Regions from separate parts of the Homo sapiens genome. Here all the other regions are linked to region 1. The links come from fine-mapping of genetic effects on gene expression. A gene starts in region 1. Each other region holds a variant in brackets. All regions are shown on one strand. Distances are from middle to middle.

Region 1 (10,333 bases):
AAGCACCACAGTAGCAAAACTTGATTATACTCGAAATCAAAATGGCAATTCATTAAAACTACCAGATTTTAGTGCCCGATGTGTGGGCATATCGTACCCTTCAAAACACCAGTTCTGAAAGTCTTAAACATTTAAAATCCAATTCAATCTTTTTCCAATCATCAAAATATTATTCAATATTACTTTCAAATGCCTTTATAATGGTTTCACAATTAGCGTGTTAATGTTACTGACTAATGTTACTGACTAAAGTACTGTTTCCTGAGTACTTTACGGCTGATAATAGTTTTTCAGGCCAAATACCCTTTGATGGAACTTCAGAGGTTAAGATAATTTTGTAGTTTGAAGAATTCCAAATGTTTTGAGAGAGAGAGAGAGAGAATGGGTACCAAGTGATCAGAACACAAACAAAACACTGACAACAATTTTGTCAAAACCAAAGATTCTGAAACTGAATGAAAAATTTCTGACCGGAACCTAATGATTCATCATTCTCAAATACTGTTAACTTAAATATCTGAGTCTGATGAATCATTAGGTTCCAATTGGAAATTTTATCTAACTTCACATATCTGTATTTTTACTCAGATATGTGCAAAATAATAAAAACCAGGAGACAACTCAAAATCCTAATTATGAAAAATCAAAAGAACCAGAATTAGAAGTGAATGATTAAGTCAACAATTTTCCACCAATAATTAAATTTAAATCTTCCAAACATAATCGTTATTCACATATTTAAAGATTTCAGGTATGAGAGAGTTCAGTTTAGGACACAGACTACTGCAAGAGACTATTACTCCCACTCGAAAAATGAAAAAAAAAAAAAAACCATCATAATATTTTTTAAAGGTACCTAAGAGCTGAGTTGGCGAACCAACCAGGTAACCTGAATTCCAAAATGTGACAAGCCCCTGAGGACAGTGGCATACTGTCCTGCTTTACCTTTTGCAAGGCATGAAGAGAAGAGGTAGCAATCATGTAAGCATATAAGAAAAAAGAACTAAAATTTTACTGAATTCTTAAAGATTTCATACATAGAAATTGCAAGACATTTTGATAGAGAATAATCTGTAAAGTCCTTCCTAATAATAAAATAATTTCAAAAAACGAATAGCTAACATTTAGAATGTGTTCACTAAATTTTAAGCATTGTATTAATACTAGTACCTGCCAAGCTTTATCAAATTAGACCTCACAACCTAGTAAGAAAGGGCTGTTCGTTTCCTTGCTTAACAGAAAAAAAACAGTGCAGAGAGGTTAAGTAACTTGTCCAAGTTAACAGAGCTGGTGAATGGTAAAGCTGGGATTCAAATAGAGGCATCTTTACTACAGAGCCTGGATCATAATTACATGTCTCTTCTCTAATCTAGACATAGTTTCTTAATGCAATTTAAATTGCTTAATGATTTATTTTGTTCAGTCTTCACAGGGAACAAATTAGAAACTTTCTCCCATTTCTTTTAGATATATCAGGACAGAATGCTTAGTCATGTTTAATAAAGAATTTAACGCAAACTTTTTACATTACAGATTATACTACTATTACTTGATTTAAGGGTAATATATGACTGTACTCTACATGGGAAAAGTGGAAAACATAGAGTAAATTAGAATCCGTTTGTTCTTGCCCCAAGCTGCCTATCTTAGAGCATTAAATTACAATGAATTAAAGATCTACTTAGTTCCAAGCACCATTCATTCATTTAGCAAATATTTACTGAACGCCTACTATATGGTGAGCTCTGTTCAAGGGGCTGGAGATAGAAAAATCCAAGCAAAGTCCCTGCCCTTAAAAAGTCTAGTGGGAAGAAACAGGCAATTAAAAAAAATACATTAGGGGGTGATAAGGGTTATGTAAACAGGTAGCTGCCACCACCACAGAGACTATCAGTTCTGGAAATACATTATTCAAGATTAGTTTGGCTACACATAACAGAAAAGTCCAATATAGTACAGACTTATACAATGCAGAATTTATTTCTCGTGTAAGTCTTGAGATAGGTGGTTATGGCAAGTTAGCAGATTATCAGAGGCCCAGGCCCCTTCTATAGTCCACATCCTTAGCAGGTGGCTTTAATCCTTATGTTCCAGGACAGATGCTGGAACTCCAGGAATCCTATCATCATCTAGACAGCAGGATGGAGAAACAAAGAAGGGTGGACCGTCTTCCTTTTAAAGAGATGTAAGAATCGGCTGGGCACGGAGGCTCACGCCTGTAATCTCAGCACTTTAGGAGGCTGAGGTGGGTGGATCATCTGAGGTCGGGAGTTCGAGACCAGCCTGACCAACATGCAGAAACCCCGTCTCCACTAAAAATACAAAATTAGCCAGGCGTGGTGGCGCATGCCTGTAATCCCAGCTACTCAGGAAGGCTGAGGCAGGGGAATTGCTTGAACATGGGAGGTGGAGGTTATGGTGAGCCGAGATTGCGCCATTGCACTCCAGCCTGGGCAATAAGAGTGAAATTTCTTCTCAAAAAATAAAAATAAAATTAATCAGAAAAAATAAGATACATCAGTAGCAATCACAATGCAGTTCTTTATGACCAGATAGCAACCTCTATGTACCTACTAATCTCGTCTTCAATGGACACAATTCCTTACGTTAAAAAGAATCTAATGTACCAATTTAAACTTGCATTTATTATATTAAGGCAATAGTCATGATTAGAAGGAAGGCAAAAAAAAATTATTCCCATATTAGGAAGATGAAGTATGTCTGTTACCGGGGCAAACTATCAAACTGAATTTCAAAACTGACAGGCTCTCCCTGAAGTCCTAGAGAGGATCTTGTGTTCACTAATTCAGATGTTGCAAGTATTCTAGTTCCCAGGTAACTCCTAGTAAAACCAAGACTGAACAAAGATATTTCTCATCTTTAAATTTAGAATCATCTCATCGATTAAACCTTCCTATCTATGAGATCTATATCTGAAGTGGGCTCTCCCAATTATTTTACATCTCAAAACTGTTTATTCTCATTATGGCATCTTAAATATTTTTGTTTATTCTTTCTCCTCCATTAGCTTACAGGCTCTCTCTGTTTTGTTCCCTTTCCTGAAGGAAACTATAATTTTTTGTGTCAAAAATATTTTCTCCTATGAGTTGCAATCTTCAGGGAAAGGACGTAGCTTCAAACAAAGGCAAATGCTTTCTCCTTAGCCAAAGTAACATAAAGGTCACTTTCTGTAAAACATCAGGATATTGCATTTTAAAATGCTTTCCATATAACATTAGTTTGATGAACGGCTTAGCCTAGGATTCTGCACCTAGTTCCAATCAAAACCAAGTTGTGAACAGATCCCTTCTTTACACCAATCTCATCTTTCAAGAACGAGCTAAAGGTTCATGAATTCCTTCCTCAAGAGGCAGTTACTTTTCAAGCTAAGGACCAAGCTTGAAACAAGCATATACCTGCACAAGGGAGGTTTAATTTCACTACAGAGCGAATCATTTTTTCAAGGAAACCAGAGGGTGTGTCATACAGCATCACTGAATATTCTAATATGCGATGAAGCTGTTATGCTTCCTTATGAACTTTATAAATCTTCATTTTTATGAGGCTTAGAATTCATCCCCCTTCCCTCTTCCACTGTTTTCCCGGGGTCACAGTTGTAGTATAGTTTGCCCAATGGATTTCGCATGGTCATTGTACCTGGAATATGTCACGCTCCCTACTCTTACTGCCCCCAAACTCTTCTCAGCAGAGATAGGCTGAAAGCAGCTCGCTTTTAGGCGGCGACGCAAACACACGTAGCCAGCTGAGCGACAGCAAGCAACCAAATGGCTTTGCTGGAGGCCCCCTGCGTGCACGGGTAAAGCTCGTTGCAAAATACAGTCCTTTCATTTATTCCCATGTTGCTATTTATGAGACCTGTCAAGGCTGCAAGGGCATGCGCAGCCTTCCCACCACACAGGACCCGCTGGGGTCTCCGGCTCCCCTAAAATTAAACCATTGTCTCTCGTTCCAACGGCGTGTTTAGCTGTTGTGCGTTATTTTACAGATAAAGGAAGGATCCCGTCCACAGACCCAATTCTTAGGGCCGCCTTCTCCCCGACGGAGGAAGAAGCTTCCTGGCAAAAGGACGAACAGGTGCGACGCCAGCAGTTCGCAGCCTCTCACCTGGCCGGCGGGCTGGGCTACTGTCACCACTCAGCAGCCAAGGACTTGGGCCCCGCAGCGGCGGCCACTCGGGGTCTGCCGGGTCCCCTCTCTTTCCGCCTGCTCTCGGCCCCGGACCCCAGACTCAAAAGCGCCTCACGCGTTCCGCCTTAGGCTCACCGTCCGATCTCGCCAGACAGCGTCTGGACGGGACCGGGAAACGGCGGCCGCCACAGCTGTCCAGGTTCTGGGATCCACGCTCAGAGACGACAGCGCTGGCGATCACCAGAAGGCCTGCGGGCTCCCGAGAAAGGAAAATCCGTCTACAGTCCAGCGGCTGACATTTCCCAGTCAGCCGTAGCGCCGCCCGCTTCCGCCTCCCCGCCTACCCCGTGGGCCGACCAGTCCCGCTCCCGCGGGGGGTTGTGGGTATCTCGAAGGCGGGTAAAGCTGCAAGGGAAGGAAGTAAGGGCGAGCCCGTCGGACTACGAAGCGGGACGGAAACTACAATTCCCAGCAGGCCTTGGGCCTCAGTGCGGCCGCGAAGCAGAGCGGGCTGTAGAGCCTTGCGCGCGCAGTGGGGATGGAACGTTGCTAGGCTTAGCGGGTCTGGCTGCTGGGGGCCCGAGCAGCACGCTCGGAGCCGCCGCGCGCCAAAGCGGGAATCTGGGAGGCGAGCAGCTCTGCAGTTAATGCACGTATTTTAAACTCCCGGGCCTGCGGACGCTATGCACAGGTAAACGGATTGCAAAAAGGGGAAGAGCATGAAATGGACCCTCTTAATAATTCTTTTAGGCCGCGAATATCGCTACTGGCTAATATTGTTAGTAATGCTGTTAAGTGAATGGTTGCTTAGCCCCTTCTTGGGGAAAGTGTGAATGGATGGATGCCTTAGTGCGGGGATCAGCGTGTGGTTTTATTTGGCTTCCCTAATTGGGCTTTTCTGCCACCGTTTTCAATCAGTGTATGATTGCCCTGTCTCTCTCCTTGTCTGTTCCCTCCACTGGGAGAAATTCTTGAGGCCTTCTGCAGGATCGTAAGTCAAAAAGCCTTCTCGATTTGTTCTTTTCATTTCTTCGTTTTCTTGGTAACTCGCCGCAGGCACATAAAAAATGCGATTCTGTTAGCTGCTGTGAAGGTTTCCTACAATGCATAAACTGCAGCTTCTTTAATTGCCTTGAAATTATTTATGGGTGTGTTTTCGAAAGGAACCGGGGGTATTGTGCACTTCTGCAGGAAGCACCTCCAGGAGATTCCAGACCTGAGTAGCAACGTTGCCACCAGCTTCACGTGGGGATGGGATTCCAGCAAGACTTCTGAACTGCTGTCAGGCATGGGGGTCTCCGCCCTGGAGAAAGAGGAGCCCGACAGTGAGAACATCCCCCAGGAACTGCTCTCAAACCTGGGCCACCCGGAGAGCCCCCCACGGAAACGGCTGAAGAGCAAAGGGAGTGACAAAGACTTTGTGATTGTCCGCAGGCCTAAGCTAAATCGAGAGAACTTTCCAGGTAAGGACATGAGGGTAAAAATGTCAGTTATGCAAAGGGTGGATTTAGCTATGTTGTTGGGAAACCTTTGTTCAGAGATCTTTAGCATGGGTTCCTTTTAAGATTGCCTAATTCTGAAGCTATTTTTCAACAAAATAGGGCAAGTCGTCAAGTATGCAGGAATCTTGGTAGATATATATATATATATATATATATATATATGTATGTTCTGGTGCATAATCACCTTGAAAATTTTAACCCATGAGAAGACATTCCTGCCTTTTTCCTTAGAAGGGAATCTGCCTGCCTCAAGGCCAGCTCAGTTTCACCGTTTAACAGAAACATAAACAGTGGTCTTCTTGTAGGATTCCTTTTGCTTTGTACCCCTGAGTGATCTTTTTGCCTTAATCACTTTAGTTATTTATCAGTGGACTGCGAAGTGAACGTTCACCTAAGTGGGGGAGACATCTCCCCAGGCCCACTCCCACCCCCATATTGGCTTCTCCTGGTATGTTCTGTCTCCATTACTGCTGACACTATCTGTTTAATCACCCAACCCGAAAACCTGAGAGTCAGTCAGCTTCCCACCGCCCCCCAACATCCAGTCATTCATCGCATCTTTCCCTCTTCTCTGGTAACTATTTCTCAAGTTCTCGTCGTCTCTTGCCTGAACTATTGGAGTGGATTCATAATTCCAACCTTCTTCTCCCCAGATCTATCCCCCGAACTAGAATGGATTGACTGAAATGTAGAACTTACTGTATCTTCCCTCCTTAATAGCTCCCCATCCCCTAGTTCCTCAAGCAGGCGAACGAGTGCCTCCCAGAGTGAACCAGAACCCTGGAGTATGCAAAAGCCATAGGATAAACAGGGCATTGACCTGGGGTTATCAGTTTTTCTTACTAGTAAGCTATTTAAAACAGTAATACAGCAAATATTTGCTGAGCACATACCATGTGCTAGGCCGTGTTCCAGGTGCTGGAGATAGAGGAGTGGGCACAACAAACATTTCTGCTCTCAGGGAGCATCCATTCTAGTGAGAGAATACAATAAACACAATAACTATTTTTATATAGTATGTTAGAAGGTGATAAGAGCTATGGCTAAAAACAAAAATAGAACAAGCCAAGAGGGAATGCAGGTCTTGGGGTGGGAAGATAGAGTGCACTTTTAAACCAGGTATTGAGAGAAAGCCTCAATTGGACAGTGACCTTTAAGCAAAGACATAAAGGAGGCAAGGAGTGTGCCATGCAAATATCTTGGAGAAAAGAGCTCCAAGCAGAAGGAACAGCCACTGCAAAGACCCTGGTGCATAAATGTGACGTATTTGTTCCAGGAACAGGGAAGCCATATTCTAAGAGTGGAATGAGCGAAAGGGAGAGTCGGGGGAGATCAGGCTGGAGGTAATGTTGAGCAGAGTTGTGATGGGACCTGATTTAACCTTCTAAAAATGACACACTGATGTGTTGAGACTCAGCTGCAGGGGCATCAAGGGTAGAAACTTAGGGTCTTTTTTAAATTTCATATTTTCAAGACGGAGTCTTGCTCTGTTGCCCAGGCTGGAATGCAGTGACCTGCTCTTGGCTCACTGTCTTCACCTGGATTCGAACGATTCTCCTGCCTCAGCCTCCTAAGTAACTGAGACTACAGGCATGCACCACCACGCCCAGCAATTTTTTTATTTTTTGTAGAGATGGAGGTTGCGGGGGCGTTCTCACCATCTTGCCCAGGCTGGTCTCAAACTCCTGGACTCAGGCGATCCTCCAGCCTTGGCCTCCCAAAGTGCTGGGATTACAGGCATGAGCCACCACACCTGGCCAAAGCTTGAAGTCTTGTTGGGGGTGAGGGTGGTCAGATTCCGGATATATTCCCACATTAAAGTCAACAGAATTTAGGAGGCTGTTGAAATCATCTGTGGAAGAGGTGATCAGAGTCTAAATTGAAATCAGGTGGGGGATGATGGCGAAGAAGAAACAGATTAAACATTTAAAGATGAAGTCTTGCAGACCCAAGGTAATTTAAGTATATTCATAAATTCTCCCATCTGGTTTCCTTTGCAGAAGGGTTGATAGATTGGTTGTTTAGTTGATTGGTTGGTTGCTCGCTTTGGCAGCACATATACTGAAACTGGAAATACAGAGAAGATTAGCATGGCCCCTGCGCAGGAAGACATGCGGATTCGAGATGCATTCCACTTTTAATTAAGAAAATAAATACGTTTGTTTTCAGCCTTTTCTTTAGGAAAGAGAACTTTGCCCAATTTATGGTCTGGGAATATACATCAGGAATTGGATTAGTTAGAAAAGCAGTAGAGGGTTGTAGTGAAGTCAGATCTGGGTTTGAATCCTCATTCTTGCGTTTATCAGCCTTGGAAAGTTATTCGAGCTTTCTTTGCCTTAGTTCCTTTATCTGTGAAATGGAGTGCTGTAATAATACCCACTTCACAGGTCGTCGTGAAGATTAAATGAGAATGACGTAAAACCCTTAGCATGCCACTGACACGTAACAATACATAAGCCAACAAAATTCCTGACACCAATTTTGGAGGCTAGTGGACTTTTATCTTTTGTTTTTAATATTGTTACTCTGACCCTGTTAGTATAAAATTTTTTTTCTTCAAAATTTAATGTTCACCGCTCTTCTTTGTGTCTGGAATGTAGCCCTAACAATCTGGTGCTTGACCAACCAAATATGGCGAAAGATACTTCCTGCTAAGATGAACAGATTTTTATTAACCTGTCCAGTGCCGATAGCTTTTGACATAGAGTGTGATTGCTATATGCCCTTCCACAAGTGAAAAAGAATTTTTTTTAAGCAAGGCACTGTGGGAACAAGACAGAAGTTTCCGGAGTCTTTGCTATTTCCCAGGAATTTGCAAGTCAAGTTGAGGAGAAAATACAATAAAAAATAAGAGCTGTGATTCCCATTCAGGTGGATGTGGAAGATCTTCCTCCTTCCACTCAGCAAGAAAGGAGATTCTGAGGAAAGAGAGGGCTCTGAAAATGGTGTAATCAGTGTCTTGATGGTTAAAGCTGACTTCAAAAGTATATATCTGAAGGGAGAGAGAAAGAATGGTGACTTTTATGTTTATTACCTAAGGAGAGGCACAGAGGGAAACCAATGTACGTGGACTTACAACAGAGATTGCTTAATTGGTGTGGAGTGGGGAAGGGTGAAATCAGTGATGCAGGATGAGGGACAGCTGGTATAGAGGATTCCCAATGGGCCTTTGGAAGCCTGGGCCTCCAGTGGAGCCGGATTGTCATTCCAAGGAGTTTTGTCTGCAGTTGTCAGGACAGGTGGCTACTAGCTTTGCCAGGATTAGGGTAGAACAGGCCACACCTGCTGTACATAGATATCTGATGACTGGTTCTGGGCTGCAAGTTTTTGTTGGTTCTTTGCTAAGCAGTTTCTCCCTGCAGGCCCCAGTCCAGCCGTACATCTGGCAACTAAATCCTCTTCATCCGTTTATCTGGGAAGATGAAAGCTCTGTGGCCAACCTGTACTAGAACAGGTCTGATTGGCCCTTGGAGTGAGTGTATGGAAAGAGTTGGGGAGGAAATGGCCCAGCAATGAGGTCAGTAACAGGCGGAAAGGGGACAATTGCATTTTATTTATGGTCATGAAATGCTTGTCCCCCACCCCACCCTTTAAACAGGTGATAGCCATGAAAATGGAGGTGAACTAATTTGTTGATCAGCTCTTCCATGACTCTTAAATGCTTGAAATTCCAGACCCTAAAGTGGTTGTCAGACTGGAGATACTAAAATTTACTGTATATCAGAATCCCCACAGGAACTTGTTCAAAGTGTAAAATTCCTGAGATTCTGATCCGGGGAGTCCTGGCCTGAGTGAGCCTGGGAATCTGTGTCTTAATACCCTTAGGCAAGCATTTTTTCCAACTTTTTTTTTTTAACCAGTAAGAAACATATTTTACATTGCAATCCTGGGTATGTATCTGAAACAGCAGTTTTACAAAACTGTATTTCCCCTTACTAAGATATTTTCTATTCTGTTCTAGTTCATTCTTTATATGTACATATATGCTAGTCAAACCCACTAAATTGATTTCATGATCTATGTGAGTCTCAGTCTACAGTTACTAAACTCAGCACTGGAAGAGCCTTTATGGGATCTTCCCAGTCATCTTTCTTTGTTCCATAGCTTCCTTTCATTCATCCATTAAGCAAATATTTCTCAAGCACCGTTTTAGAGGTTGGGACTACAATACTGAACATAACAGGCAAGAGACCCTGCCCTCATAGTGCTTATACACTGTTCCATATTTTTTCCAAATCCCAGCTTCTGTTGTTTCTTCATTACACCCCCTACACCTCAGGGTTGAGCAAGTCTTTCATAGAAATAAAGGGTTGTGGGACTGAAGGGGTACATGGGGGAATCCTTGTTAAGTTTGGCTGTGTTTTGTTTTTTTCAGTTTTGCCCACCTTAGCCAAAAAAACAAAAACACCCAAAGCCAACATGGCCTCAAATGTATTATTTATGGTTTGTGGGAAGAGGAAGGAGAACTCATCTGGGATGGCACAATCTGTTTGTAGTTCCCCAGAAAGAAAGCATGGGGTATTGCTACTTAAAACAAGCCAGCAAAAGCAATTCTGAGGTGAGCACCCCCCAACTCCCTGAAAGAAATGCACACACACACAAAAACAAGTATGAGTACCAGGTCCTCAGTATACATTTCTGCAAGTATAATCTGATTATGCTTAAAGAGCAGCAATTTTTTA
Region 2 (10,333 bases), 280 kb after region 1:
GCTGGTGGGCACAAGACTGTGTGCACCCTCTGTGAGCATTCCCACAGGCAGCAGTGGCTGGGTCCACTGTTCTCCATGACTCGTTTTGCACCAGTGGCAGTGTTGGCTCAGGGACAGGTGCTGGCAGGCATGGGGCTGGTGGGCTCCATGCCCACCAAAGTTCTGATGACAGTGGTGGTGTGGCCAGAGGATTGGGATAGTGGGAGGTGGATGGGGGGAGGGGAGGGGGGAGGAAGAAAGGTATGGTCACACCAGCAGGATGCACGTGCACATGCACACTGGTTGGGAAGGGAAGACAAGGTCGCCCCAGGTGTACGCATACCAGCAAAAGGATGGTGCAGGGAGGTCATGGGCAAGTGCATGCAGGCAAAGTGGCACAGGGGGAGGCTGCATCGGGGGCAGCACAGGTGAGCTGGTGCATGTTCATGGGGCCCACTCTGCTGGAGCACTCTGCCGGTCAGGTGGTCCATCAGCACAGGAGCTATGATGCAGGCCCCCAAGGCACCAGAGGCTGCCTTGCAAGCAGGCACATCCAGGCTGGGTCCCAGAAGAGGCCAGCAGACCAAGGGGTGCTCAGGTCAAAATGGCCCCGTCTCATGGGCAAAACCTCCCTGCAGAGTTCAGGTCCAACAATTCCCCCAAAGCTAAAATATCTTATAGGAATAAGTCGAGCCTAGAGAGATGGGCATCTTGATATCAGGTAGTGATAGTCTCCACATCTGTTCTTTCTCAAAGTTGTTTTAGCTGTTCTGGGTGGTTCTTTGCATTTCCATATGAATTTTTGGATCTGCTTGTCAATTTCTATAAAGAAGTCAACTGGGATTTTGACAGCATTGCATTGAATCTGTGGGTAAATTTGGGAAGTATTGTCATTTTAACAATATTGTCTTCTCACCTATGAACATGTAACACATTTTCGTTCATTTACTCCTTATTTCAAAAATGTTTTGCAGTTTTCAGTGCACAAACCTTGCATTTCTGTTGTTAAATTTACTCCTAAGTGTTTTATTCTTTTTATTCTATTGTATAAAAATATATAAAAATATAAAAATACAACTGGTTCTGTAATTGGTCTTGTATCCTGCAACCTTGTGGAAATTTCTTATGACCTCCAATAATGTGTGTGTGTGTGTGTGTGTGTGTGTGTATTTTTTAGGATTTTCTATATACAAGATTGTACCATCTGTGAATAGAGGCAATTTTACCTCTTCCTTTCTGATCTGGATAACTGTTATCCCATTTTCTTGCCTAATTGCCCTGCTTAGATTCTCTGGTACAGTGTTGAATAGAAGCAGTGAGAGCAGATACCCTTGTCTTGTTTCTGATCTTAGAGGAAAAGCACTCAGTCTTTCACCATTACATGTGATACTAGCTGTGGGTTTCTCATAGATGCCCTTTATTAGGTAGAAAAGGTTCCCATCTGTTTTTATTCTCTTGAGTTTTTTAAATCATGAAAAAGTGTTAGACCATTAATTGATCTTTAAAGATTAAACCAGCAGGATTTTTTGTAGATTCTGTATAGACAAGCTGTTTCTAAAATTTATATGGAAGAGCAAATGAGCTAGAATAGCTAAAACATATTCACCATGGTCAGCCTAGGCCAAGTCATCATCACCTGTCATGTGGATTATTTCCAGTCTCCTCCAACTAGTCTCTCTATGACCACCCTTGCCACCTTATAGATTAGTCTTACAGGCAGAGTGACTCTCATTGTACCTAAGCCAAATTCTGTTTCTCTCTTCAGTAATCTCCCACCTCACTCAGAATAAAACCTAACATTCATACAAAGGACCAGATATCCAGTGTCACTTGCCACCTTTCTACCTCTCCCACCTTATCTTCTCCTACTTTTTCCCATGCTTACTCTGCTCAAGCTACGCTGGTCTCTTTACTAAACTCAAATATATAAAGGATACTCCTGACACAGGGCTTTCGTTAGCTCTTCCCTCTGCCTGGAATTTTCTTCCTCAAGATACCCATATGTTTCATTCCTTCATTTCATCAAGCCTCAGCTCAAATGTCGTATTCTCAGAGAAGGTTTTCCTGCTCACTCAATAAAATAGTAATCTTCACTTCTGTCACTTCTGCTATGTTTCTTACTCTAATGTGTTTTTTTTAGTAGTTCTTGCTCCCACTCAACAAATTCAATATTTATATTATCACTTGTTCTTTTTCTACCTCTTCTTCTTAGATATTAGCTTTAAGAGAGCAGAGACATTATCTGCTATATCCCAGAATATTCAACAGTCCTTGGCATTATAATAGATGCCCAGTAAATATTTGTTGACTAAGGGAATGCTTCTGTTTTAAAGAGAATTTTTAAATTTTTGATGTAATCAAACTTAGTAACCTTTTCCCTAATGATTTTTGCTCTTGTGTGTCTTAAGAATAATTTATAAACACCAAAGTCATAAAAAATTGCTGATATTTCCTTCTAATATTCTTGAGCAGTTGTTCATTATTTAGATCTTTTGTACATTTTAATTTTGTACATTTAATTTAGTGATAAGGTATAGGATAAAACATTTTTGTACGTGTAAGATAAAAACTATTTTAATAATGCTTATCGAATTTTTCCTTTTCTTCTAATTTGAAAAGACAATTCTAACATATGCTCTTTCTCTTCATCTTACTTTTTCTCACAATATGTGTATTTCTTTCATCATTAAAAATGTCCCATAAACATCATTTTATTGTTGTGTAGTATTTCAACCTGTGACAATGCCAACATTTATTTAATACTTTTTCAATAATTAGATATTTGACTGTTTCCATTTTTGTTTGTCTAACACTAAAAGGAACATCTATATAAATGAAACGTCATTCGTATTCAATTGTTTACTTAAAACATATTCTTAGAAGTAAAACTGCTTGGTCAAAGAATATGAACATCTAAAGTTCTTATACAAAGTGCAAATTATTCTCCAGAATAGTTAGACCAACTTGCCCTTGTTTGAGCATTTACCAGTAAATGAGAATACAGGTCCCACTATACATTTACCAACGCTAGTATCAAATATCTTTCTCCTTTCTTTGACATTCTTTAAATATTTATATGCTAGGCCCCAGGCTAAGCTCTTTACACAGATAATCTCATTTAAATTCTACAATTCTATCAGATAAGTACAACCATAATCTTCCTTTAACACATAAGAAAATTGAGTCTTCAACAGATTACAGGACTTGGCCAAGGCTACACAGCCAGTGAGTACTAGAGGTGAAACTTCAACCCAGGCCAACTAACACCAGAAGCAGAGCATTTTAACCAGCTCTACTTTTCCTCAAATCTTTACCAATTTAAAAGGCTAAAAAAATGGCTTCTCTTTTAATTTGCATTGCCTTGACTACTAAGGAAGATGAACATTTTATTCTGGGCTAATTGTATTTACTTCTAGATCAATTCTATAGGTAGCAGTAATCTGAGTTCCAATTTGGTCATTAGAAGGTGGTATGCTGGCCTCAGCGTAACTCAGATTTTAGAAGAGTAAGATTTGGATTCGAGTTGCACTTTGTTGGCTCAGCTGTGCGGTCTTGAGCAAGTCACTTAACTACCTGGAGCTTCAGGCTCTTTACTTGCGAGATGAAGGTAGATATGCTTTTTCTCACCAAGTTGTTATGAAGACTGCTGAGATCAAAGGAGTTTAAGCACATAAGCAAACAATGAGATACAAGGCATGAGAAACACTGGGCTAGGAGCTTTCCAGTGTCTCCATTATTCTTCCTATCTCCATGAAATAGGCAGTATCTCCATTTCATAAGTGTGAAAAGTAATTTGACCAAGGTTACACTGGTAGTAAGTGGTAAGAGTACTTCTAAGTGCTTGGCACATAGAAAGTCCTTAGTAAGTGTTCATTCATCCAGGAACACATCACTCTTTGCCCCAGAAGTGGAGATGAAGTCTCCCCAGTTTCTCAAGAGATGAGGGCAGCATTTTTTCAGAGAGAAGAGAAGATCCTTTAAAGGACAATGCTAATATTATGGGAATAATAGGCATCAAAGGAAGAAATAAGAAGATAATCAAATGTTATCCAATTCCTTTCTTTATTTTACCTAAAATTCAGAAAAGATCTAATGACAATCCCCTCAGCAAACACTAAACTTTCCTGCAACAAACCATATACAAGTTGCTCCTACCATGTGGCTTTTAAGCCTCATGCACACCGACTTTTCTAGAGCATTATTCTCACGTGGTTGCTCCTCTTATGCCTCCAGTGCAAATGAGATGGAAGTTAAATAAGAGCTTTCTTACTTTATTGAATTCCCATTGATAAACATCTCCCTTGCAATCGTCTTGGCTATTCTCTCTTGTGGGAGAGACAGAGAGAGAATTAGCTATTGTTTTCTAGATTCAAACCCTCCCTTCTATGTTCTGTGATGCTGCTGTGTCATCTGACACCATGTTACACTCTACAGTAGCTAGCACTAGAGGATGACTGCAAAGTTGGCAGAGGAAGAACTGACTTGCTTCTCCCTATGGCTTCTTGTTGGGTTTCCATGGGCTTCATGGTCCTGCCAGCACAACCCTAACAACACTTCTTTTCCCCATCAACACCAGCAGACAGGCACTCCAATCTCAGATGTCTTTTTCTCTAGGTTTCTAAGTTCTAGAAATTCCAATCTCTTCTTTTGTTCCACAGCCCTAAGGATGGTAGCTGCTTCCTGCAGTCCCTCCTCTGTGATACATCTTTTTGCCTTTTCAATTCTTCAACCCTAGTTGAAGAATATAATCATTCATATTAAATGTTCTTTGTCAAAATAATTAGTGTGGTTTCTGACACTGAGTGCTATCAAGGAGGTGGAAGAGGGTAGGACCAGGAGATTATTAAAATCCTTTCGACAACAAATGTCCATGTTCTTGTACACTGGATTCACTGGAAATCCAGTCACTGGGAATCCAGTCTACAAGATTCAAATCCCACAGTTGCTTCTTCCTAGCTGTGGGAACCTTGGCAATTTTCTCCCAAGCCAGGAATCCCTAAGTTGCAGAAGGGACTTGAGATAACCTGAACTTGGGCCAGTGTGAGGCCCAGGGGAAGGTGGGGAGGTTCCCAGTCTCTGCCTTCCCTTGGCAAGCCTTCAAGCTGCCCAGTGTCCAGTTCTACTCATCCTGGTGCAATCCTGCCAGTGATACCAAACCAGACCCATTCTACCCATCACACAGCATGCAAATCACTGAGAAGACGAGTTTTGCAGCAGAGAAAGAGTTTATTTACAAGGAGCCAAGCAAGGAGGTGGGAGAACAGGTCTAAAATCTACCTCCTTGAAGACAGGGCTTAAGGCTATTTGTAGGGTAAAGAAGCAGGGTGGTCTAAGGTGTGGGGAAATGTGATTGGTAGTGGGGAAAAATTAGGTAATTAGTGGTTTGCACAAGCATAGTTGATGTTCATGGCTCTTCACAGGACTTA[T/C]GTTCAGAAAATGGTGATGTTAGCATGATTGGAGGGAAGAGTTTTAGGCCCTTTGACATCAAAAGGTCACCTCTTAGGCATTTGCACAGGCCCAGTTGAAGGGTTGGTGGTCTCAACTGGTTCAAACTGGACAAGAAACAGCTAGGTCCTAAGAAACAACTAGGTCCTAAGAAACAACTTCAAGCAGCCATTAGTGTAGTGCCATATACATCAGAGCTGTTACCTATATGGAATCTAGTGGCGGTGTTTGTTATGTATTGTGTGGCTACATGACTTTTAGCCAAACCGTATATACAGGTTTTCAGCTCAACTAGAAGCAGATGATTAAAAGCAAGCAAGACAGGTTAACCTAAGTTTGGGGGGCTTAATCAAGTTAGCCCTTGGTTGCACCAGCAATAAAGCATGCATGAGAATGGTGACCCCTGGGACACATTTCCCTGACACCTTAGGGGCATTTTCCTGGCATCTTCAGCTGTGGAAAGATGAGGTAGCCACCAATTCTGGGTCCAACAAAATTGGCATTAGTTTCTTTCCATTGGAGAAGAGACACACAGGAGGAAGTGTGGACAGTGCCCTACACTCAAGGCAAGGCGGCTAACTCGAACCTGCATGGGGACAGGAAAGATGTGCCCCCTCCTAGGATTAGCAGGGTCTAGAATTACTCAAAGTTGATGGTTTAACATTGATTTTAAGATTATAAGCCCTGGTGCTAGACTGTCCAGATTGAAATCCCACCACTGCTTCTTACTTGCTTGGGGACCCTGCAATTTTCTCAACCTTTCTATGCTTCAGTTTCTTCATCTGTGTAATGGGGATAATTAGAGTATTTACCTCATAATGTTTTGAAAGGGTTGGATTATTTACCTTATGCAATGCATTTAGAACAGTGTCTGGCACATAAAAAGTGATATGAAATGTGTACCTACTTGCTGATGATGATCTGTGTATGACAAGCTAAGCAACAGAGAGATGCACAGACACCCACGTGAACAGAGAAGTATGTTTTGATGGAATCTTTTCAGTCAGAAGAGCTACTTGTTAAGATACTTTAGGTTGCAAGAAACAATAAGCCCTAGGACAAATGGCTTGAAAGGGAAATTTATTATCTTAAACACAACAAGTTCAGAGTAAGGCAGCTTCAGCAGATCAAAGATGCCATCAAGGACACAGCTCCTTTTCATATTTCTTTTCTACCATTCTCTGCAGAATATTTTGTTTCCGTTTTTGTTTTTGTTTTTGTTTTCTGAGGCTTGACCTCTCATGTTTGCAAGAGGGCTGTAGTAGATTTCACCATCCCAGCCTTGAGACAACATACAGGGCATTGGAAGGACTTTAACTCCCCAGTGTAGCATTTAAAGATAGAGGACAGCCTTTTGCAGATGCCCCTCCTTCAACCCACCCTGAAGGCTTCTTTCTCCTTCTCATTGGCTAGACTGTTTCTCATACTTATGCCTAAACCAATCAAGATTACTTAGAACAATCAAGAGTCACAGCTGAGGAATAGGCATGAAGCTCACCTCCCCTGAAACATATGACTGCACAGGTGGCTATATGCCCAAACAAAATCAGGGTTCAGTTAGGAAGAAGAAAGGCAAAATGGCTGGTGGGCAAAGAACCAAGAGTGACTGCTACCATGGCCTTCCCAGCACCCTGCACAGCACACAGTCATTGGCCTGTGCATAAACTTGGCTCTGTGCCCAGATTGACCGCACTGACATTTAGGAGAATATATGGGGGAACAAGAAACCTGTCTCCCCACCTCATCAAGGATATGAGGGCCAAAATAGGTTTATTCGTCTAGACCCCAAACACACACAGACACACTGTTGGGGAGTGTTTGTCAGTTAGGAGAAGTGTAAGGAATGGAAAAGAGTGAGGAGAGGAAGGGGAAGCCAAGCGCTGAATAAATTGGCATGTCAACAAAGGATGGAGAAGAGAACATTAGCGCGAAAAAGAATGGGAGCTGGAGAGTCCCCAAGCACAGAAGCTGGGGAAATGAAGGGACAAATTCAGGAAGGAATGTTATTTAAAATGTGTGCACATCTGAGGAGCAAAAAAAACAGAAGAGTGGCACAAAAGGCCAAGCCAGAGGGGGAAGCCTGGGAGCAGAAGTTGAGAGGGGGACTCTTTCAGGCAAGTGTAATAGCAAGGATACAGCAATGACCCAAGCACCAAGTCTGTTTTTCCTTAAAGTGAAATCTATGCTGTTCTGAAAGTATATGACTAAAAACCTGCTATATCCATGAGGCAGGAGGCTGGAAGCTGGGGCAGAGTGGCAGCCTGGGGCCAGAGATGCACAGACACCCATGTGAACAGCTCCTGACAGGGAGGGGTGGGGGTCTGAGCTGCCAAGCTCTGCCTGGGAGATCTGTTTACTTTTTCATGCCCAGATCTTGAGGGGCACTTTTGGCAATGTTTACTGGGGACCCAGACCTCACTCTTGGTCTCCCACAGTGCTAAGACAGGGGCAAAAGGCTCAGGGTGACCGTCTACTGACTAGGAGGCTTGGAAATATCTGAAATCTCTTTAACCCCAGGTTCCCTTAGTGGCTGCATTCTCTGATGAACACTTTTAGTAGTTGAATCCACAGAGGGCAAACTCAACGCTTCTGGGTACTGCTGCTGTAAAAACCAGGAGAATAATGAGAATTTATTGCAATTATTCTTTGACTAAGCATGGTATTTGTTCAGAAGAAACACTTTAATAAGTCATTTAAGGTGGTTGCTAGCACATAGCCTCATGCACAAGGACTGTGTATCGTTACACAGAAGGAAGATGGTGAGATGCTACACCCTGCCAAAGTAGCTCCCCGACCATCTACGCAAATGTTTAGTAAAAGTCTATGAAACCTCACAAAACTGTGGCGCGAGTAAACTTTTTTTCTGGGACCAGAACAGAGGCTGTATCTTGCTCCTAAGATGAAGTGGGGGTGGGGGAGTGAAATTATCAGCTCATGTGAATACAGGAGTCAGGGACAGCTCTGCTGACTCCTGGAGCCCCATGAGCAAAGCACTACCTCAGACATCTGGGCATATGGGGCCTGGGTATCTATCAATCAACCAACCAATCAATCAGAAATCCAACCAATGGGAATTTATGAGGCTCTGGCTTTATGCTGGGCTCATATGAAAGCACATATGGCAGATACAAATTACAGGAAATGAACGGCATTCAAGAAGTTTACAATCAAACCTGGGCACCAAACTCAAACCAAAAAAGGGGTTTAAAATGTGTGTTCATGACTATGAGTACCATAGAGATCAGAGACTCAGGGAGACCAACAAAGTTGCAAGTAGTCATAGTTTAAGGAGGAGATGGCTTGGAAGCAGGGAAGTATGATCAGTCTTTACAGAGAAACAGATGGGAAGCGGAGGATTCCAGGGAAGCATAGAGGCAGGTACGAGGAGTCAGGGACACGTGTGGCGAATGTGAGGGGCTCTCGGTCTTGCTGGCATGAAACTGGGTGATTCTGGGACCTAAGCATCAAGAGAGGTGAGAGGGAGATTCAAGGTCAAAACAGTCTCCATAGCTCAGAGAAGGAGGACTGCCCGCTAAGCAAACATGCTCACACCCCAGATAGAGTGAGTTTTCAGAGCAGAAGAGCTGAGGAAGCTTTTTATGTGATTTATAACGGTCTGTGACCCCAGACAGCGGCACACCCCAGCCCCCAAATGCCACTGCAGAGAGCAGAGATGTGCTTTTTCATAAAAATGTTATTTTACTTTAATGCAAAAGTCAGGAAAATTAATCTGGGCCAAAAGGAGAATTTCTTGTAGAGACCTCTGGTTTCCCCATAAATTCTCCCCAAGTGCTCCCAGGCCACAGCGCCCCTGCTTCCAGTCTGCAGTCTGTTGGTATTCAGCCTCTGCCCTGGACCAGGAAATTACCAATTCCAGTCTCACACAAGGAATTAAGGTTGGAACAATACAGTATTTTACAATCCAGTACAAGCTGCATTTATCCAGAGCTTTTCATGCATGGCATCTTAAAGTTCTTTATGACCCTTTTTCTTAAAAAAAAAAAAAAAAAAAAAGGAAAAAAAGGAATTTAAAAGAGAAAACCTTCTAAAAACCCAAACCCCCACTGAACTAAATGAGCCATTCAGAGTGAATAGGACTTAACAGTGGCCTTCAGAATAGGAACAGAGGTCCCACTCGGATGGAACAAGAACAACAGAATCAAAGGAAAGTACAGCTCAGAGAAGGCTGCACAAGGCCTGAAATGTACCCCTCGGCCCTTGGGGCACTGATGGGCTCTGCGATCTGTGACTGGCACAACCAGCTTTGGATGGGGATCAGAAGATGGGGATGTGGTCCCCATGATTCAGTGAGTGCAGAGGGGACAAGAAGGTCACCTTTTGGCTCTGAAGATAGTCAGCACCAGCCTCAACATTTGTTCTCCCCACTTGGCGAATACCCTCCCCAAAGGCCACTAGACTAGGAAAGGAAGTGGCTATATTATGTGCCTTTGGATTCCAATCCTAATCCTAGCTCCTTCTCAGGTACCCAGAGCCCTCATGCTACATTCTGCTACAGCCCCAGCTATGCTTGCCCTTCTTGGAAATCCCTCATGTTTTGAACAACCACCACACACCTCTTCTTTCCCCCTCTTGTTGCAGTCTCTCATTGCCTGAGGTAGTACCCAGAGTCCTTTGTCTCATGACCAAGAAAGTTAAGGAGTGCAGACACCAAGGTTGGAGCGAAAGTTTAATAAGTGAAAGAAGAAAGCTCTCCACTGCCGAGAGGGGACCTGAAAGAGGGTTGTTGTTTTACAATTGAATGCAAAGGTTTTAATAAAACACTGATGAGAGCTGGGCATCTTATTTATATAAGGTGCGAATTTCGGGTAGCTATACCCCTCTCTCCTAGTGCACGTGCAGGCCCTTAGTTTGAGTTACTCCATATTGCTTTGTTCGCCTTACTGTGCAT
Region 3 (10,333 bases), 74 kb before region 1:
GGCGAGAATTGATATCTTTTCTGAGTCTGCTCCCAGGCCTTGGTGACATATCCTTCAACTACAGGCACTGCACCCACATTTCCTTTGCATCAAGGGGGACTTTGGAATTCCCTCATACCTTATACCTTAGGGCCAGTCCCAGCTGAGGGTTAAATCACCAGGAGACCCACAACACCCCGGTGATATACCAATCCCCTGTGCTTGTAAGAGTCAGAGTGGGCTGTGGAATGTGTCTGGCTGGTGATGCAGTAGGTCAAGTGTGTGGAGTCTAAGTCCCTAGGCAGGACAAACTGCTTTCCACAGGGACTGAAGTAATTTACATCCCCACCAACAGTGTATAAGCTTCCCATTTCTCCATAGCCTGATCAACATCTGTTATTTTTAGACTTTTTAGTAATAGCCATTCTGACTGGTATAAGATAGTATCTCATTGTAGTTTTCGTTTGCATTTCTCTGATAATTAATGATGAGCAATTTTTCATATGTTTGTTGACTGTTTGTATGTTTTCTTTTGAGAAGGTCTGTTCATGTCATTTGCCTAATTTTTAATGAGGTTATTTGTCTTTTTCTTGTTGATTTGTTTAAATTCCTTGTAGATTGTGAACATTAGCCCTTGGTCAGATGAATCATTTACAAATATTTTCTTCCATTCTGTAGGTTGTTTGTTTACTCTGTTGATAGTTTTTTGTTGTTGTTGTTTTGTTTTGGGTTTTTTTGCTGTGCAGAAGCGCTTTAGTTTAATTAGGTCTCATTTGTCAATTTCTGTTTTTATTGCATTTGATTTTGAGGACATGGTCATAAATTCTTTGCCTAGGCCAATGTCCAGAAGTTTTATCTAGGTTTTTATCTAGGATTTTTATAGTCATAGATCTTATATTGAGCATTTTATCCATCTTTAGTTAATTTTTATACATAGAAAGAAGTAGGTGTCCAGTTTCATTCTTCTGCATACAGCTAGCCAATTTTCCAGCACCATTTATTGAATAGGGTGTTCTTTCTCCATTGTTCATTTTTGTCCACCTTTCAAAGATCAGTTGGCTGTAGGTGTGTGGCTTTATTTCTAGATTCGCTGTTCTGTTTCATTTATCTATGTGTCTATGTTTGTACCAGCCCCATGCTGTTTTGGTTTCTGTCGACTTTCAGGATAGTTTGAAGTTAGGTAATGTGATGCCTGGCTTTGTTGTTGTTTTGCTTATGATTGCTTTGGCTGTTTGGGTTCTTTTTTTGGTTCCATATGAATTTTAGAACAGTTTTTTTCTAATGCAATGAGAAATGATGTTGGTAATTTCATAGGAATAGTTTTGAATCTCTAGACTGCTTTGGGAAGTATGGACATTTTAACAATATTGATTCTTCTAATCCATGAGCATGGAATGTTTTTCCATTTGTTTTGTGTTGTCTACAATTTTTTTTTCAGCAGTGTTTTGTAGTTCTCCTTGCAGAGATCTTTCATTTCCTTGTTTAGATATATGCCTAGGTATTTTGTGGGGTTCTATTGGTGATTGTGAATAGAATTGCCTTTTTTTTTTTTTTTGAGACACAGGCTGGAGTGCAGTGGCACGATCTCAGCTCACTGCAAACTCCTCCTCCCAGGTTCAAGCGATTCTCCTGCGTCAGCCTCCTGAGTAGCTGGGATTACAGGCACCCACCACCATGCCCAGCTAATTTTTGTATTTTAGTAGAGACAGGGTTTCACCATGTTGGCCAGGCTGGTCTCGGTCTCCTGGCCTCAAGTGATCTGCCCCACTCGGCCTCCCAAATTGCTGGGATTACAGGCGTGAGCCACCATGCCCGGCCTAGGATTGCATTTTTTTATTTTTAAATTTTAACTTTTGTGGGCACATAGTAGGTGTATATATTTATGGGATACATGAGGTATTTTGGTACAGGCATGCAATGCATAATATGCATAATAATCAGAATTGCATCTTTGATTTGGTTCTCAGCTTGAACACTGTTGATGTGTAAAAGTGTAAATGATTTTTGTACATTGATTTTTTATCCTGAAACTTTACTGGTCATTTATCTAGTCTAGGAGCCTCTTGGAATAAGCTTTAGGGTTTTCTAGGTATAGAATCATATCGTCATTGAAGAGAGATAATTTTACTTCCTTTTTTTAAATTTGGATGTCTTTTATTTTTTTTTCCCTTGCCTGATGGCTCGGGCTGGGACTTCCAGCGCTATGTTGAATAGAAATGGTAAGAGTGGATATCCTTTCCTTTTTCCGGTTCTTAGGGGGAATGCTTCCAACTTATGTTTATTCCGTATGATGTTGGATGTGGGTTTATCATAGATGGTTCTCATGTATGCTTCTTTAATGCCTAGTTTGTTGAGTGTTTTTATCATGAAGTGTTGTTGGATTTATCAAAAGCTTTCTTGTATATATTGAAATAACCAAATGGTATTTGTTTTTAACTCTGTTTATGTGGTGAATCTCATTTATTGATTTGCACATCTTGAGGCATCATTGCTTCTCAGGAATAAACGCCACTTGATCATGGTGAATTATCTTTTTGATGTGCTGCTGGATTCGCTTTGCAGGTATTTTGTTTAGGATTTTTGCATCTTTGTTCACCAGCGATATTGGCCTATAGTTTCCTTTTTTTGTTGTGTCCTTGAAAGATGTTGTATCAGGATGACACTGGTTTCTTAGAATGAGTTATGGAGGAATCCCTCCTCCTCTACTTTTTGGAATAATTTCAGTAACATTGGCACCAGCTCTTCTTTGTATGTCTGTTAGAATTCAGCTATAAATCCATCTGCTCCAGGATGGAGCAGGATGTTTTGTTTTTTAACGAAAACAAAAACAACAAAAAAACGGTCTCACTCTGTCACCCAGGGTGCAGTGAAGTGGAGTGATCACAGCTTCTTGCAGCCTTGACTCCCTGGGCTCAAGAAATCTTCCCACCTCAGCCTCCCAAGTAGCTGGGACTACTGGCACACACCACCATACATGGCTAATTTTTGTATTTTTTGTAGAGATGAGATTTCACATTGGTGCCCAGGCTGGTCTCAAATTCCAGGGTTCAAACATTCCACCCATCTCAGCCTCCCAAAGTTTTGGGATTACAGACATGAGCCACTGCACCTGGCCGAATTTTTTATAGTGGGTTAATTTTTATTACTTATACAACTCCAAAACTCATTATTGGTCTATTCATGGTTTCCATTTCTTCCTGGTTCAACTTTGGGAGGCTGGGTATTTCCAGGAATTTATGCATTTACTCTAAATTTTCTAGTTTGTGCCCATACAGATGTTCATAGCAGTCTCTGAGGATCTTTTATATTTCTGTGGAATCAGTTGTAATGTCACCTTTGCCCTTTCTGATTGTAGTTATTTGTATCTTCTCTCTTTTTTCCCTGCATCTAGCTAGTGGTCTATCAATCTTGTTTATCCTTTCAAACAACTAACTTTTTATTTCATTGATCCTTTTTATGGCTTTGGGGGTCTCAATTTCATTTGTTTCTGCACTGATTTTAGTTATTTCTTTTCTTCTGCTAGCTTTGAGTTTAGTTCTTGTATGTTTGTTCTTGTTCTTTTGTTTGTTCTTGTTCTTGTTCTTTCAGGTGCAACATTAAATTGTTAATTTGAGATTTTTCTATCTTGATGTAGGCATTTAGCACTATAAACTTTCCTCTTACCACTGCTTTTGCTGTATTCCAGAGATTTTGGTATATTATACCTCTATTTTCATTCATTTCAAATAATTTTTTATTTCTCTCTTAATTTTATTATGTACCCTAAAGTCTTTCAGGAACAAGTTGTTTAGTTTCCATGTAATTGTGTGGTTTTCAGAGCTCCTCTTGGTATTGATTTCTAATTTTATTCCACTGCGGTGCATGATGATGCTTGGTGCAATTTCATTTTTTTAAATTGGTTAGGATTTGCTTTATGACTGAGCATGTGGTTAATCTTTGAGAAAGTTCTGTGCACAGATGAGAATAACATATATTCTGTGGTTGTTAGCTGGAGTATTCACCAGATGTCTATTAGTTCTGTTTGGTCAAGTATCAAATTTAAGTCCAGAATTTCTTTGTTAGTTTTCTGTCTCTGTGATCTGTCTAATGCTGTTATTATGTTATTATATGGCTGTTTATCTCCTTTCTTACTTCTGGAAGTAATTGTCTTATAAATCTGGGTGCTCCAATATTGAATGCCTATATATTTAGGATAGTTAAATCATCTTGTTGAATGGAACCATTTATCATTACATAATGCCCTTCTTTGTTCTCTTTTACTATTGTTGGTTTAAAGTCCGTTTTATCTGATACAAGAATTGCTACCCCTGCTTCTTTTCATTTTCCATTTCAGTGATAGATCTTTCTCTATCCTTTTATTTTGAACACGTGAGATGGATGTCATGAAGGCAGCAGAGGGTTAAATCTGTTTTTTATCCATATTGCCATTCTATGTCATTTAAGGAGCGCATTTAGGCCATTTACACTCAAGGTTAATATTGATATGTGAGGTTTTGTTTCTATTGTGGTATTATTAGCCAGTTGCTAGTTGTTAGCTAGTTGCTTTGTAGTTTCTATTATGTAGTTGTTTTATGTAGAGTCTATGGGCTTTACTTACACGTGCTTTTGTTGTAGCAGGTATTGTTCCATGCTCAGAACTCCTTTTAGCCTGGATCTGCAGCTGTGGTTTGGGCAGCTGCAGTGGCACCCAGGAGGGCAGGGTTCCTGCCTGCTCCTGGACCTCAAGAGCACAGGGAGGCTTAGATCTGCCTGCTCCATGGGGCGTGCGACTCCTGCCTGCTCCGTGGGGCTGCGGCTCCTGCCTGCTCCTTGGTCGTGCAACCCC[G/A]TCCACACCCCTCTACTGCAGCCTGCGTGATGGCAGCGGCAGGCCATCTGGAGCTGCCGCTGCCATCACTTCTGCTTAGTTTTTTCTATTGTTATGTCTTCCAGCTGTATTTTGAAATCTCTGTAGTGAATTTTTCTATTCCAGAAATTCTGTTTGGTTCTTCCTTAATATAACTATGTCAACTTACATATCCTGGATCATTTTTCTGGTTTCTTTGTATTAGATTTCAACTTGCTCTTGGATCTCATTGTGTTTCCTTGCAATTCATATTTTGAGTTACCTTTCATTTCAGACATTTCCGTCTAGTTAGGATCCATTACTAGGTAGCTGGTGTGATCCTTTGGAAGTGTAAAACACTGTTGCTTTTTGTACTACTGGAGTTCCTGTGCTGATTCCTTCTCATCCAAAGATGCTGTAACTTCTTTTTTTGAATTTGCTATCATTTGGGTGAGGCTTTTTCATTTTTTAATTTTTTCCCTTGGGGGTGTATGACTGTGGTGCATATTGTGTATGATCATTTGGCTTAGTTTCTAGGTGCTTTCAGGAGACAAGTATTCTGTACGGGTTCCTTGGTTGTGGATGGGTTCTAGGCGGTGGAACCTATCCACAAGCTATCTCAGATGCTGTTTGCTGTAGCTATGTATTTTTTGTTTAGTGGTGGAGTTCAGATGGAGCCCAGTAGATGGCGATAAAAAGTAAGAGCTACCAGGTAGGCTGATGCCTAGTGTACGTGCCCTCCCTGATGAGGATGGCAGAAAGAGATCCTGTTGGAGTATGCTGAAGTCTCACGGGAAGGTGGAGCAGAAAGTGCATCAGCTCCTTGTCCTGAGCTGGCAGGAACACGATCTGCTTCCATATCATGCCCCGTCACAGGGCTCATGACCTGTTTACAAAGGCTTTGTTCTTTGGTTCCCGGCCACAGTGTAGCTGTACACCACAGATTGACCTCTCTGAGGGATACCACTAGTATGGGGGTCAGGGCAGAATTTCTTCCCCCAGTCCAGAGCAGGAAACTTCATGGTCTGTCCTCAGTTGCCGGGGCACGGCTGCTCCATATAGGGAGGGGAAGTTGGACCCCACCCTTCATCCCATTCTATTGTTAATGAGAATCTGATTGTTACCAGCTCTTACCATCATAAATAAAGCTACAATGAACATTCTTATGCATGCCTTTTGTTGGAAATGTGCATTCATTTATCTTGGTATGAATCTAGGAGTGGAATTCCTTGATCACAAGGTAGGGTAGGTTAAGCTTTCTTAGATATTACTAAAGAGTTCTTCTAAGGATTGTACCAGTTTCCACTACCACCAGCAATGTATGAGAGTTCAACTTGCCCCACAGCCTTCCCAAATCTGGAATTGTCAGTAAGTCTTTTTAGTGTTAGTTATTAATATCTCCTTGTTTTAATTTGCATTTTCCTGATTACCAATGATGTTGCATACTTTTGAAATATATTATTGGCAATTTGGGTAGCCTTGTTTATGAAATGCCTAAGCAAGTATTTTGTCATTTTTCAAATTATGTGGGATTTTTTTTGTTTTGTCTTATTTTTTGTAGGAATTTATATATATTCTCGATCAGAGTCCTTTGTTCAATATACATTGGGTGCTGTCTTCTCCCAGTATATGACTGGTCCTTTATTCGCCTAACGGTATCTTTTGATTAATGGAATTTCCTATTCATAATTCTAAGGTATTTATTTTTTTATGTTTAGATTAGTGCTTTTCATACTGTCCAATAAAAAATACCTTGCATATTCTGAGTTCAAAAATACATCGCTTGTTTTTTTCCAGAATCTTTATTGATTTATCTATTATACTTCAGTCTATGATTCATTTCAAATTTTCTATGTACAGTGCTGGGCATTTTTTCCATGTGGGTATATAATTGCTTCAGCAACATTTATTGGGAAAAATTTTTTAACTTTTATTTCCACATTGTATTGGGGTTTTGGTCATAAAACAAAAGATCATTTTTTGTGGGGTTATTTCTGAATACTACTATTCTGTTTCATTGATCGACCTTGATAGCCTTATTCTAATATTATACTGCCTTAATCACAGTAGCTTTAAAGTAAATCTTGAAATCTGGAATTCTAATTTTTCTGAAGTTCTCCTATTCCACATTGCAAACAACTTGTTAATTTTAACAAAGACATTTATAGTATAATTATATAGTAATTTTATAGTTTTCTCAAGATTTAATTGAATCTAGACATCAATTTGGGTAAATTGATTTCTTCACAATGTTAATTCTTCCAATCCATCTCCAGTTAATTACATCCTCTTCAATTTTTTCCAAGGTTTTATAGTTTTCAGTGTACAGATCATTTAATTTATTTAAAAGATTTTGTTTTATGATTATTATAAAATGTACTATGACATTTTATGTCAATTTTCAATTGTTTATTTCTGGTATATAGAAATACAATTGATATTTGTAAACTGACCTTTTATCCTATGACAAGGTTGGGTTCATTTAGTAATAGCTGTAAAACCAGACCTGGTACTGAGAGTTTACTGAACCATTTGTGATTCCCTTGGATTTTCCATGTACCTAAATGCATAATCTGCCAAGAGTTTTATTCTTTCTTTTTTATTTTATTTTTTGGCCTAATTGCATTCCATGGACTTCCATATAATGTTGAAAGGAAATGGCGAGAGTGGACCTGCCTGTCATGTTCCTGACTTTAGGGAAAAGAAATAGAGTTATTTTTTCACCATTGAATGCTACGTCAGTTTAGAATTTGTAAATACTTTTTATTAGATGAGGAAGATTTCTTTATATCTAGTTATGAAATAGACAATTTTTGAATATAGATCAATAAATTAAAATGCATGTTATAATCCCTAAGGGAACCACTAGATACACGTACGCATACACATACAAATACACATGAACATACACACCCACCCACACACATGCACACACACACACACACACACATACAAACTAAAAAGTCAATAGGGGAAATAAAGCGGTGTAATAACAGTATACCTCTAATTCACCCAAAGAAGACACAAGAATAGAAATTAAGTAGCAGGTGGCACAGCTCAGTGCCCAGGGAGTCCTTCTTAGCCCACAGTTTCTCCCAAAGGAGAAAATGAAAACTGAATTACAAGTTTTCTCAGCCTGTGGTACACTGCCCACCCAGAACATTAAGGGGATCAGGAAAATTGAAATGTCTGGGACAGCTAGAAGCATTGAGAAGGGGAAGAAGTACACAGCAACTGGTGTGTGATTCTCAATAGCTGGACATGGATTCTGCTAAGTGGCTTGAGGATTCTAGCAAAAGGCCCACCCATAAACCCCACACAAGGAAAACTTGCTGGCAGACTCCCCCATTAACAAACTAATGCATGCCTTAAACATACTGTGTGTCCATCCAGGATGTTGCCCTGTGCATCTCTGTGCACAAGGCCTAAGTACTCCTGCAAATGGCACATGGATCTGAATAGCAGATGCAGATTTTAGCAGCAGGTTCAACTCCATTGGAATGTGAAAAGAAGCACACAACCTTGAAAACTTTGGGGCATTGTTGGGTAAAACAGATAAACTCTCAGTACCAGGTCTGGTTTTACAGGACTGAGAGACAGAACATAATCATAAGACTTCCTCCCTTAGAGGGAACAAGAGGAGTGAAGCAGATGCATCCATAGAAAAGGTCTGAGAGACCCCAGAATCTCTAGTGGGACTTACTGAGGAAGGTCTATCTCTCGCAATGCTAGAAAGTAGACTGACATAGGTGACTACTTTTGCAAATGCAAACAAAGAAAGAAAACCCTCAAAGAACACAAAGAATCAATGAATTATGGTATTACAAAAGGAACACTATAAAGCTCTGGTGGCTGACCCAAAATAAATAGAAATCTACATACGGCCTGACCAAAAAAAAAAAAACAAAAAATAATCATTTTAAAGAAGCTTAGTGAGTTACAAGAGAACAGATAGACAACTAAGTGATATCAGAAAAACACTACAGGAACAAAATGGAAAGTGCAACAAAGGGACAGAAACCATAAAAATAAGCCAACAGAAATTCTATACAATATCTGGCTGAAAAACTCAATAGAAATCCTCAACAGCTTGATAGAAATCTAGCAAGTAGAAAAAAAAGAATTTGACAGCTGCTCTGTGAAAACCTGTACAGACTGCTTTTCAAAATGGGTCCCTAATCCCATTCCTCCTCAATGGGCAGGACCTCCCAACCAGGGTCTCCAGCCACCCCTGCCAGTGCTCTCCAGCCAACAGAGTTTTGAAACCTCCCTAGGACAGAGCTCCCAGAGGGACAGTGGGGCTGCCATCTTTGTTGTTTGGGTGACTTAGCTGTTCTGGCCTTTAGATTTTGGAGAGTCCAAGGCGATCAGGGGCTGAAGTGGACCCCCAGCACAGCACAGCTGCTCTACGAAAATGTGGCCAGACTGTTTTTTTAACCAGGTCCCCGATCCTTTCCTCCTCACCAGACAGGGCCTCCCAACCAGGATCTCCAGCCACCTCCTATAGGTGTGTATGGGCCAGCAACAGGTCCATACCTCCCTAGGACAGAGCTCAATCTTTGCTGTTTTACAGCCTTCAATGGTGATACCTCTAGGTACTGGAAAATCTGAGGTGACTGCAGACTGGAGTGCACCCCCAGCATACTGCAACAGCCCTATGGAAAAGTGGCCAGACCGTAATATGGGTGCCCTTTCCGATATCTCCTCATCAGGCATGTCCTCCAGCCCTCGGCCTCCAGCAACTGCCCCCAACCCCAGAGCTATCAAGCCAGTAGCAATCTGGCAACTCTCTGGACAGAGCCTCCAGGGGCAATTGAAAGCCTCTCTGCCACTGCCTCTGCAGTAGAACTGCCTTTGCTACCCTTCAACTAACAAACAAGCAAAGACCCTAAGTGCTTTGTTCACACCTCCAATAAGCTGCAGTTGACCTAAGGAGAGGAGGCCAGTCCATCTCCCATGGGTCCCACATACCCCTCACTGCTCATCTTAAGACAGGGAACCCCTGGCTTGGTCCACAATACAGACCCTTCATCCTGAGCTGATTGCACTCAGCATTTGCTGACTTGCATCTCTCTGGGGTGGAACCCCTAGAAGACAAGCAAAATGCCCTTGGCCACAACCACTACTAAGATCCCTTCTTTTGCTCCTTTCAAGTTGGGAAAGGAACATAAACACTGAGATCACCCCAGAGCTGTAGTGGAAAGCCCAAGAATGCCAAGCCATGATCTACAGCCAGCACTCAATGGGGAGAGAAACCCACACCCTCAGAGCATTAAGAAGGAACACAGTTGTAACCATGAGGAAACATAAGGGAGACACATAACCAAGTAAGAGTTTACCAACTAACCAATAAGCCTAAGTTCCACCTACTGGATCACACCCTAAAGCTTCAACACCAAAAATACCTCACTAACATACCCTCCTGAAACCAGAGACAAGAAGTCAGCTACAAATAAAGACCCTGCATGAAGCCATGGCCCAATGAAAACATCCAGAAAAGAAGTCTATTGGCTGTACTTAACATACACTGCA

The links. PIP is the estimated chance that this variant, and not a neighbour inherited with it, causes the effect.
Region 2: its variant is fine-mapped to the expression of LMBRD2 in lymphoblastoid cells (GTEx, PIP 0.99).
Region 3: its variant is fine-mapped to the expression of LMBRD2 in whole blood (TOPMed, PIP above 0.99).

What each region holds. Positions count from the first base shown.
Region 1 is chr5:36,147,431-36,157,763 of GRCh38, forward strand. It overlaps LMBRD2 (LMBR1 domain containing 2), which reads right to left and starts at 4,457. Exons shown (of 18, transcript NM_001007527.2): 1 at 4,126-4,457. It overlaps SKP2 (S-phase kinase associated protein 2), which reads left to right and starts at 4,681. Exons shown (of 10, transcript NM_005983.4): 1 at 4,681-4,840; 2 at 5,341-5,612. The coding sequence starts at 4,833. MIR580 (microRNA 580) reads right to left here and starts at 558; the gene lies at 462-558. It also overlaps the pseudogene RNU6-1305P. RefSeq lists silencers at 3,728-3,787, 4,388-4,527 and enhancers at 3,741-4,724, 4,798-4,987.
Region 2 is chr5:36,432,147-36,442,479 of GRCh38, forward strand. No RefSeq gene overlaps it. Among named protein-coding and RNA genes, the nearest start is that of RANBP3L, 140 kb to the left of the region's middle. RefSeq lists an enhancer at 9,910-10,333. The variant T/C (reference allele first, on the strand shown) is at 5,406.
Region 3 is chr5:36,073,869-36,084,201 of GRCh38, forward strand. No RefSeq gene overlaps it. Among named protein-coding and RNA genes, the nearest start is that of UGT3A2, 12 kb to the left of the region's middle. RefSeq lists an enhancer at 5,547-5,596. The variant G/A (reference allele first, on the strand shown) is at 4,805.